2 separate regions of the Homo sapiens genome follow, and region 1 is linked to region 2. Evidence: fine-mapped expression QTL. A gene starts in region 2. The other region holds a variant in brackets. All regions are shown on one strand. Distances are between the middles of the regions.

What was found.
Region 1: its variant is fine-mapped to the expression of KSR1 in monocytes (TOPMed, PIP 0.97). The same link has a PIP of 0.9 or more in blood mononuclear cells.

The regions. Positions count from the first base shown.
Region 1 is chr17:27,526,581-27,531,949 of GRCh38, forward strand. All of the region lies in intron 1 of KSR1 (kinase suppressor of ras 1), which reads left to right. It also overlaps the pseudogene MSANTD3P1. Among named protein-coding and RNA genes, the nearest start is that of KSR1, 73 kb to the left of the region's middle. The variant A/G (reference allele first, on the strand shown) is at 2,880.
Region 2 is chr17:27,454,099-27,459,467 of GRCh38, forward strand. KSR1 (kinase suppressor of ras 1) reads left to right here and starts at 2,350. Exons shown (of 21, transcript NM_001394583.1): 1 at 2,350-2,776. The coding sequence starts at 2,546. RefSeq lists silencers at 1,880-2,639, 3,160-3,209 and an enhancer at 2,015-2,516.

The sequences.
Region 1 (5,369 bases), 72 kb after region 2:
TTGCAATTGTAAGATGGACATTTGTTGATCATGTTCAGTCCTCGTGCATCTTTTTTAAAGCACCTTCCTGAGAGATTTTGCTCATGTAGTTTTTATTGGCTGTTATTCTGACAGCTGAACACGAGGGTTCAGGTTGAGAGGTCCTCTCACGTGTTGGAAAACGTATGAACTCTTTCTCATCATCGCACAGTTCTCTATTTGAAACAGCAAATGATTCTTGGGCCGTGGCGTGGTATTTGGGCTCCTCCTCCGGGGGGAGGGGTGGAAGGAGTGCTCTGCAGGAAGTAGAGCTGCTCCAGCAGCATGCTGGTGATCTCCTTCCCTAGGACTTGGTTACTCAGGAGGGGGCTGACGCTCCCTTTCACCTTCTCTCTCCTTTCATGGGCCATAATTGTTTTAGTCCAAGCCTTGATGTTCTCCCAGCCCTTCTTCAGCTGTTTGAAATCCGGCAGGGACAGCTCGGCTGAGAGTTGCATTCGTGGGTCAGCGCCTGCAGGTACATTGATTGCTTAAGGGCAATAGTTCACACATCACTTTTCTTACATTCCAGCACATATTTGTACTTTTCTACTAAAATCAGCAGGGTACTCTTTTCTAGTTCTGAGAAGTATTTGGCAGGTTTTATAATTTCATTGTTTTGCATTTTCCACTATATTTCCCCTGGCCGCCAGCTATCCTGTAATCCCAGCTACTTGGGAAGTTGAGGTAGGAGGACTGCTTAAGCCCAAGAGGTCAAGGCTACAGTGAGCCATGTTTGCACCACTGCACTCCAGCCTGGATAACAAAAGGAGACACTGCAGTGGCACACCCGCCCCCCCCCCCCCCTTTTTTTTCTTTTTTGAGACAAAGTCTTGCTCTGTCACCTAGGCTAGAGTGCAATGGCGTGATCTTGGCTCACTGCAACCTCCGCCTCCTGGCGATTCTCCTGCCTCAGCCTCCCGAGTAGCTGGGACTACAGGCACCAGCCACCAAGCCTGGCTAATTTTTGTATTTTAGTAGAGATGGGGTTTTACCATGTTGGCCAGGCTGGCCTTGAACTCCTGACCTCAAGTGATCCACCCACCTTGGCCTCGCAAAGTGCTGGGATTACAGGCGTGAGCCATGCCCGGCCTGACTTCTTGTTTGGGGCACAAATCAGACTGTATAAGAATCATGAGAAAAACAATAATATCTTGGGCTTTCACCAAATGTTTTATCCTGGTCAGCAGTATCTTTAGAAGACACAAATTTTCATAGTTTCTTGATTTTAGGATATATTTCATAGTTTAATATTTCTGAAATTGGGAGGCTTTGTACGATGTCTTTAATGTAGTAATTCTTTGCTCTCCCCAAATGCTGTTATTACATTGATTATGTGTCTCATAAATGAACATCCCTACCTCTTGTGGGTCATCCAGGATGGAATTTGTTTTATTGGTCAGTAGAAAAGGCTATGACCTAATTAGTGTATCGAGTAGGTATTCTGTGTAAGTTAATGCATTTATTTTGTTTTTTATTATTTTTGAGATGAAGTCTCACTCTGTTGCCGAGGCTGGAGTGCAGTGGTGCCATCACGGCTCACTGCGACCTCTGCCTACTGGGGTTCAAGCAATTCTTGTTCCTTAGCCTCCTGAGTAGCTGGGATTACAGGTGCGTGCCACCATGCCTGGCTAATTTTTGTATTTTTAGTAGAGAGAGGGTGTCACCATGTTGGCCAGGCTGGTCTCAAACTCCTGACCTCAGGTGATCTGCCCACCTCAACCTCCCAAAGTGCTGGGATTACGGGTGTGAACCACTGTGCCTGGCCAAGTTAACACGTTTAGTCTTTAACACATTTGGTCTTTGGAAGAAACTGAAGCTCAGGAATGGATCAGTAATTTGTTAAAGGTCACACCGCTAGAAAAGAGTGGATCCAGTATGTGAGCCCAGCTCTGTCTAATCATGATGTTCAGTTCTTTCTCCTTCCCAGGAGAGACCTGTACTTCTTCACTTCTGGCTCCTGCTGTTTTTTTAAGCTGAGGATGTCCTCTTCTCTTCCTATTGAAACTCCATTTCTGGGCCAGGCATAGTGGCTCACGTCTGTAATCCCAGTGCTTTGGGAGGCTGAGAAAGGAGGATCTCTTGAGCCCAGGAGCTTGAGACCAGCCTGGGCAAGATGGTGAGACTCTGCCTCTACAAAAATTAAAATAAAAAAAGTTAGCTGGGTATAGTGGTGTTCACCTGTAACCCCAGCTACTCAGGAGGCTGAGGTGGGAGGATTGCTTGAGCCTGGGAGTGTGAGGTTGCAGTGAGCTACGGTCATGCCACTGCACTTCACCCTGGGTGACAAGAGAGACCCTGTCTCTACTGGAAAAAAAAACCACAAAAATCCCAAAACAAAACTTACACCACCTGTTCCCCAAAAACCTATTGGATAAAAAAACTCCATTTATTATTCTTTCAGTTTGGATAACATTTTATGATTATAAAAATGACACCCGTTCTTTAAAAATACAAAAAAGTAAATAATAAAACTTTCCAGTGTTTACATTTTGAGATGTTAATTTTGCTATAAAAATAGAAATTGACCTCAAAGTTGAAAAAAGAAAATTAATGCCTTAAATTAAAATAAAAAAGATATGTGAAGATCATACTGCAAATGTAGTTTTCTTACCTTGAGTTGTTAACTTTCTAGAAGATTATGGGCATTGCCTCATATGATTAAGTACACTGTTAAAAGGGACTTAAAAAAAAAAAGTTGCCTCATAGTGTTCTGTGATTGACACACCAGAATGTAGTTACCTACTTCCCCATGTTTGGCTATTTTAAGTTACACTTCCGTGAATAGGCTTATGCTTACACTTAATTGTTTCTTTAGGATAAATTCCTAGAAGTGGAGTCTGGCTCAAGGGGTGAGGGCC[A/G]CCTGGTGAGGCTTCTGTTGCATCATCCTGTTTCTCTGCTGCCCTCCAGGGGGGCGATGCCGCTCCACGCTCCTGCCATGCTCCTGCCACAGCCACACTGGGGAGTCCCTCTGCCAATGTTGCCAAACATCTGCCCATATGTTTCCATTTTGTATTTCCTTGCTTATTATTAAGGTGGGAGGTTTGTTATGGTTGCCGGCAGAGGTAACTTTCCTTTGAGATAAACATGTATATTTCCTTGGCCTGTTTAACTGACTTGTTTGTGCAACCCCAGTCATTCTTCAAGACCCAATTCAAAGCTCATCTTTTCCATGAACTCTTTCCCGACACCCGTCTTTTCTCTGAAGCTGGAAGCTTTAATTTTCATATCTGAATTCTCACAGCCTGTGTGTATCTGAAAACCCTTGTCAAAGACACTTTTGCATTGCAACTTGATATCTTTGGCCCCCACTTGAATCTGAGGTCTTTAGGGTAGGAGATGGGTCATTCATTTCTGTGTTGTTTGCAGGGCCTTGGCACCATACTGGGTAACTAGTGGGTACTCGATACTCTTGAATGGATGGATAGATGGACACACACTGTTCTTAACAAACCAACCAACCCATCCCACACCCGTCAGCAAAATGAGTTTAATGCCACCTTATGAAATTGCTCTCTTCCTTTCCGCATCTTTGCCTTTGGAATCAGTGAGGTTTTGCTCCATCTAAAGACCCAGCAGGGGCTGGGCGCAGTCCCAGCACTTTGGGTGGCTGATGTGGGTGGATCGCTGGAGCCCAGGAGTTTGAGACCAGCCTGGGCAACATGGTGAAACCCTGTCTGTACAAAAAATACAAAAATTAGTTGGGTGTAGTTGTGTGTGGCAGTGGTCCCGGGTACTCAGGAGGCTGCGGTGGGAGGATCGTTTGAGCCTGGGAGGTCGAGGCTACACTGAGCCGTGATTACACCACCGCACTCCAGCCTAAGCAACAGAGTGAGACCCTGTCTCAAAAGAAAAAAAAAAGACCCAGCAGGGCAGATGGAGTAACCAGCAAAGCCGACCTTAGTGGTGAGGCTGGGCATGGCGGCCTGAGCAGGGATCGGCTCCAAATAGTACGTCTACCGTGGGCTCCTGGACCTTTCTCCCTTTGCTAGAAGAGAAGCACCAGCACCCTCCCTTTTCCTCTTGTGACATTTTAAAATGTATTATTCCCATTCATAGCCTTATAAAATCAGTACGCAGTAATTAGAGAACATTTGGAAAACACAGAAAAGTAGAAGGAAGAAAATAATTACCTATAGCCTTCCCACTCAGATCAGCCCATTCACAGATGACATTTCTGCTGTGTTTTCTTTCAGTTGTGTTTTCCAGGCAAAGACTTTGTGTGCGAGGTTTTGCTTACGTAGTTCTTGCCATCCATCATGTAGATTTTTTTGTCCTGCCTGTCGCTTAGTAAAATAACACAAAAAACTTCCTATGTTTTTGTAAACCTGCTCAGTGGCTCTGTCATAGTTTAGTAAGTGGTTTTACCATCACCTCCTTAGCTGTGCTTCCATTGTTGGGGCTTTGGGTTGTTTGCACTGTGTCCCTCTTGTAAACAATGTCGGGATGGACAAGTTTGTGCTGGGCGTTTCCTTGTCCCTTTGGCTGGTTACCTCAGGCAGACTGGCCCATACCAGCCCTTCCCCGCTTCATTCTCCTCCCTTGGGGCCAGTGCCCTATTCGCCTCTCGGTTTGTGTTTCTCAGTCTCCATGTGTAGCAATATGTTGAGAAACAGCTTCCTTTTTCAGGAAGAAAGCTCAAGATGTTGAACCTCGAGGAGGCTGTGCACAAAGGTGCAGAGTCCTGCCTGCTGGGTCATGGCCTTGGCACTGCAGGGCGGCCCCCTTCTGCCTCACAGGCCCAGGGTTACAGAAGGTGCAGGTGACGGGGAGGCCACGCCTTTGAAGGGGCTGCCTGGCAAACCTTTTCCCCTGACAGTAAGCTGAGGGGGTGGCCCTGGTCACATGTTGCAGGTCTCTGGAGGGGGTGTAGTGAATACCTGAGTCCATTTTCTGCCTGGTCCCACACTCGGATCCGTCATGGAAGATCTGGCCCCTGTGTTCTGTGGGCGAGTGCTTGGGGGAGAACCCCTCCTGTGGGGCTGCTGAGATGTGTGCTGTGCTGGAGGTGGCTTCAGCCCTGCTCCTCTGAGCAGCTGCTTGGGGCATGCTGTTGAGCTCCAGAGAGCACTTCAGCATATAGCCAGCAGCGCCCTGAGGAGCTGCAGTGACAAAGGCCACTGTGGCACTCAAGGCTCAGGTTTGGATGGTGGAGTAACATTGCCTAGGTTCACCTCCCACCCTGGACAGTTACTTTATCTCTCTTTCATCTCCACTTGGGGATAGTAATAACACCCACCTCCCCAGATGAAATGAGTTAGCATTTTATACACTTCTCAAAACAGTCCCTGTTTGTTAAATAAAAATAGGGAACCAGCGTTACCAGCTAGACCACTCGCTCACAGCAGGTT
Region 2 (5,369 bases):
TACTTGGGAAGCTGGGGTGGGAGGATCGCCTGAGTCTGGGAGGTCGAGGCTGCACTGAGCCATGATCATGCTACTGTACTCCAGCCTGAGTGACAGAGCAAGACCCTGTTTCAAAAAAAAAAAAATCTTTTGTGAATTGTGTTAGAATGAGTGAGTCGTTCAAGCCTGGCAGCTCTGGCTGCTGGACAGAGGCTCTGAACCAGCCAGGTTGGGTTGTGGATAGTCCCTTGAGATAGTTCTCTGCCCACTGACCTTCCTCTGTGCCTAGGCTTCTCAAAGTATAGACTTGCGACTGGGCTCAGACTAACCACATCAGTACCACCTGAGAACCTGATAGAAATGCAGATTCTCCTGCCCTGTCCTCTGATCTACAAAATTAGAAACTATAGAGGTGAGCTCCATGGTTCTGGGAATTAACAAGCCCTCCAAGTGATTCTGATGCATGTTCAAGTTTGAGAACCACAACTAGTTTCCCTTTCATAATAGTTACTACTTTGCAAGGAGTCGGATGGGGTTAAGGTAACAGGTTGAGAAATTCATAATATCGTGCAGGCGGTCTTTTTATAAGTTGAGTGAGGACTGGATCAATGACTCTCAATGGGAAAGGCCAGGGGTTAGGGAGGAACCTCCTTGCATTTGGAAAATCTCGAGGAGGGGTTAATTTGCAAAAACAAGTTTTAAAGTTATAGTTTTGCTTCCTAGACCTGATTTTTAAAAATTTATTATTTTTTTTAGAGACAGGGTCTTGTCACATTGCCCAGGCTGGTCTCGAACTCCTGGCTTTAAGTGATCCTTCCCCCTTGGCCTCTCAAAAGTGCTGGCATTACAGGCATGAGCCACGGTGCCCAGCCCTTAATTTATTTCGAAGGCTGGTGTAATATAAACATTAAAGGAAGGTGTAATACAAACTGCCATCCATTATTGATTGTTTTAGTGTCTACAAGGTTTGGATCCCACCTCCTGTCCAATTCTCATCCTCAAACACAAAAACAAAACCAAAAAAACAACTGTCTATCTACACACACACACACACCCTCGGCTGGCCTGAGAGGTAAAAGAAACATCCCATAGGACCTGCTGAAAGAGCTCCTGAGGCACGCTGGAGCCTTTCTTGTGTGCCATGCACTGTATCTGGCACTATAAAGAGGGTACAATAGCTAGTGGCTTCTGCAATCAAGCAGCTTACAAGAGAAAATTGAGAGGGGAGACATTTTTTCTGGTTGACAGATGTCGAAAGCATGAAGGTGTGGGAGCTTTGATCAGAGACTTGGTTTTTCAGTTTTGCCAGATAATAGAACGCATGGGGTGAACTAATGGGAGAGGAGGGTGAACAGATGGGCAAGGCTTGATTGCTGGGTTAGGAGGCACAGAAATGCACAGAGGACAAAGGACTACCAGTCCTTGGCAGTACTGTACTGCTCCATGGCCACTACCTGGGTCCAGGGCCACATTCAGATCTGAGGTTAGATAGTAAGAATTGCTAACATTTATCCAGCGACCACATGTGCCAGTAATCAATCTAGGTGCTGTACATGTATTAACTGATTCTTCATAGGAACCCTATTAAAGAGTTATTTGATGAGGAGAGTCGGGCATTCACTGGAAATCGAACGTGCCCAAAGTCTCACCCTAGACCGTGGTGGAGTCAGAATTTGAATCCTGGCCACTTGCTCCGAAGCCACCGACAATTCAGTGTGCTGTCCCCCGTGTCTGGGCTGGCTTGGTGGGCTGGGAATGGCGGGGGAATGGGACACTTATTTTGGCAGGTAAATGTGGTTCAGAAGAAAGCTCTTCGTCTTTCTCCAAGCCTGAGCAATCGTTTTGGCGCAGGCAGTCCAGAGTAGAGCGCTTTGTGAGCCAGCTACAGAAGTGCTGTAAGCCCCTTCCCACTAGATGGCAGCCCCTAAACCCACATACAAATCCTGGAACCTCCCTGGTCCCCATCTTCCAGGGCTGGGCTGCAGCTGAGGAACTGCGGGACGCACACCCGCCGGGCGTCCAGGGGGCGCCGCCCCATCCGGGGGTCGCGGGAAGCTCCTAGGCCGGGTGGGGGACGGAGGCGGACGGGGAGACGCTGCTCCCCCGACTCTCGGCGCCTGGGGGAGGAGCTGGCGCGGAGCAGCTCCACCCGGGGCTCCCGGTTGGGGCCGGCCCTCACCGCCTGCCTCGCCGCGGCCGCCGGGAGGGGAGGGGAGAGGAGGGCAGGGAGGGCGGCGCGGGCGCGGTCCGGGGCCCCGAGGGCGGAGGCCGGCGGCAGGTGCGCGGCGTGGACTACAAGTCCCAGCATGCCCGGCCGCCCTGACCCAGCCCCCGCCGCCGCTTAAAGGCTCCGGGAGCCGCAGCCGTCGGGTCGCCGCGGCTTTCGCTTTGCTGCCGCGGCTGGGAGGGTGGAAGCGGCAGACTCAGCGGCCGGCTCTACCGGCGTCCCGGCTCGGGCAGCGCCGAGGGGCGCTCCTGGTCCAGCTCTCCTGGCTCGGGGGTTCCTTGCCGAGGCGCCCGCGCCCCGGGCTCCCAGCCTCGGCCGCCGCGGCCCCGATGCCGAGGCATGGATAGAGCAGCGCTGCGCGCGGCGGCGATGGGAGAGAAGAAGGAGGGCGGTGGCGGGGGGGATGCGGCGGCCGCGGAGGGAGGCGCAGGGGCCGCGGCCAGCCGGGCGCTGCAGCAGTGCGGGCAGCTCCAGAAGCTCATCGACATCTCCATCGGCAGCCTGCGCGGGCTGCGCACCAAGTGCGCTGTGTCCAACGACCTCACCCAGCAGGAGATACGGACCCTGGAGGTAAGTGGGTCGGGGACCAGGCTGGGCTCGAGGAGCGGGCCCGGACACCTCCCTCCGGGCCCCAGTACTCCTGGCCGAGTTGCATCCTTGAGCCCGCGTCGCCCCCCTTGGAGGCTTCCCCTCCCTCCTGCACTCGCTGATGCGGCAGCCGGAGGACCCGGGACCAGCCCTCATCTTGGGCAGGATTTGTGGGGCGGGTGCGTCGTGGGAACTGGGATGGAGGCTCGAGGGGCCCGTGCGGGGTGGGCTGCGCGCGGACATCCCCTTTCCCCCCTTCTCCGCCCCCACCCCATTTCCAGTTTGCGGGGCCGCAGGACTCGTTGTCCCACCGAGTCACAAGCTGGACTTTTCCCCGTGTGACTGAGCCGAGCACCCGTGGGCCAGGGTGACGGAGGAGGTTCCCCTGAAGCGTGATCGCAGGCCTGCCGTCCCCTGTTCCCCTCACGCCCCAGACGCCGTCCTGTCCCTTCCTTTCCTCTCCTCTCAGGTCTTGTCTGCCGCCTTTTCAAAAAGTGTTGCTGAAACTGCATTTTTGTTATTCAGGCGTTTGGTGCTTTCCTTTCACGTTGCCACGGAGGCTCGCTGCTTAAAATGTATTAATAATTACCCGCTGACTCCCCCTGCTTCCCCCCAAAGATTGGATTTAGGCTTAGGAAGGATTATGCTGGGAAGCAAGCCTTTGGTGGGAAGATGAAACTGTTTAAAGGGTTCTGATGGAGACAGTCTGGAGTGTAAAGAAGAAATAAGATATGCGGGCCTTCCTCTCTCAAATTATAGCTGGGGAAGTATCTGAAGGATTTGGAAAAACCAGCCCGAGGGTTGTTGGGGCACCCTGTCCATACACAAATGAGGGCAACTAGTGGATTCTGAATGTGATTTTGGCCAGGGACGGGGCGGTGAAACGTCAGACCAGTTAATAGCTGCCCCGTCTTGAAGAAGGAACCTCTCACCATCTTGCCCTGCCACATCTGGCCTCCTGCAGGTCTGGGGATGTTTTGTTTTATTAGATCCTCAATTTCTCCTCCCCCAAACCCTCCCCCCGCCCCTTATTGCTAATTGCCTCTGCCAGCTGTCATAAGGCCCTCTGTGATCGCGGTAATTATTACAAGACCAATCCTTCCTCCAGGCATGCCACAAAGCCGAATCCTTGTTTGATTCCAAATGCTCGGGGGTGACTCTCCCTCAGTTTTATTTTCTTAAAAGCTATAAAACCACAGGACATTGGAAGAATACAGTCAGTGCTGGGTATTATTATTTTTTATTACAGTTGGCTAAAGCTGTACTGACCAAGGCTTTGCTTAAAAAACAAACAAAACCCCCTACAACTGGCCTTTCTGCATGCATGCTGCAGTTTTCCAAGTATTGAGAGAAACTGATTTTTTGAACACAGCTGAGTGTGTTTGCTCAGCAAAGTTCAGTTTTTAAGCTGACAACAATAGGGGGCCTGTGAGGCTCAGTTCCGGGAGGAGGGGTCGCTGTCTGGCAGAGTGTGCGTGGTTGGACTTCGGTGTTGCTGGGCTTGGAGAATGCTCTCTGTGTTGGCCTCTGTGGGATTGTCCCCACGTTGCTCTGAAGTGCTCCTGGCTTCCAGAGTGTGTATATAGGAGAACCACTTGCTGTGCATTCTCTGGAATGGCCTTTTGTCCTACCCTAACTTCCGGAGTCCCTCATTTTGATGGCAGTGTGGCGTTCATGACACCCCAGAGCATCCAGCTATTTAAGTGTTGGAGCTGGTTTATTCAGTGGCTTCCCTCCTGAGTGTTTGTTTAGACGATCATCCCTGGCAGCAGAGAACCCATCCAAAGGCCCACAGGGGATCTGCAGCTCCCTGTTCTTCCCACCGTGATGTGGATTCGGGTTCACTCCACTTCCTGAAAAGGCAGGGCCTGGGTTGTTTTGGGGGATGGGAATTTAGACCCCTGGAGTGAGTTCCATGGGGCTGCCACCAGCTAGTTTAGATGAGTCACTTCATCCCGGAGGCCTCAGCCTCCTCACCTGCAAAACAAGGAGGCTGGAGTGGATCTCTGAGGGCTCTGGAAGCTCGAAATTCTCTAGGTTAGAGAAGGAGACTTGGTTGGGTGAAATCAAATGTTTGTGATTGTTTTTATACTACCCTGGTTTAAGAATAACCCTCTTTAAGAATGGTTCTAAAATCCAGATTTACTGAACCCATAACATAGGGGTTAAGTTTATTAGAAGAATCTTTGCCATAGGAGCAGCGTGGTGAATAGGAAGCCCCATGGCTTTCATACTGGGCCTGGGTTCTGTCTGTGTGACCTTAGGCAAGTCCCATGACTTCTGAATCTCAAGCTCTCCTGTCTGTAAAATAGGAACGAGACTGCTCACACCTGCAGCATTTTGTCTGTCAGTCCGTGCTGATACTACGAAAAGAGTCTGCCTGGCAGCTGCCCCTAGTGAGGGTCCAGTAGCATTTATGGCACAGGCCACCACTAGGGAAACTTAACCCCTACTGGACCCTTGCTAGGGAAACTTAACCCCCTACTTTATGGGTTCAGTAAATCTGGATTTTAGGGAAAGGTACTTCTGCAGCTGCCTCTCATTTCATACAGGTGGGTGACACAAGCCAGGAAAC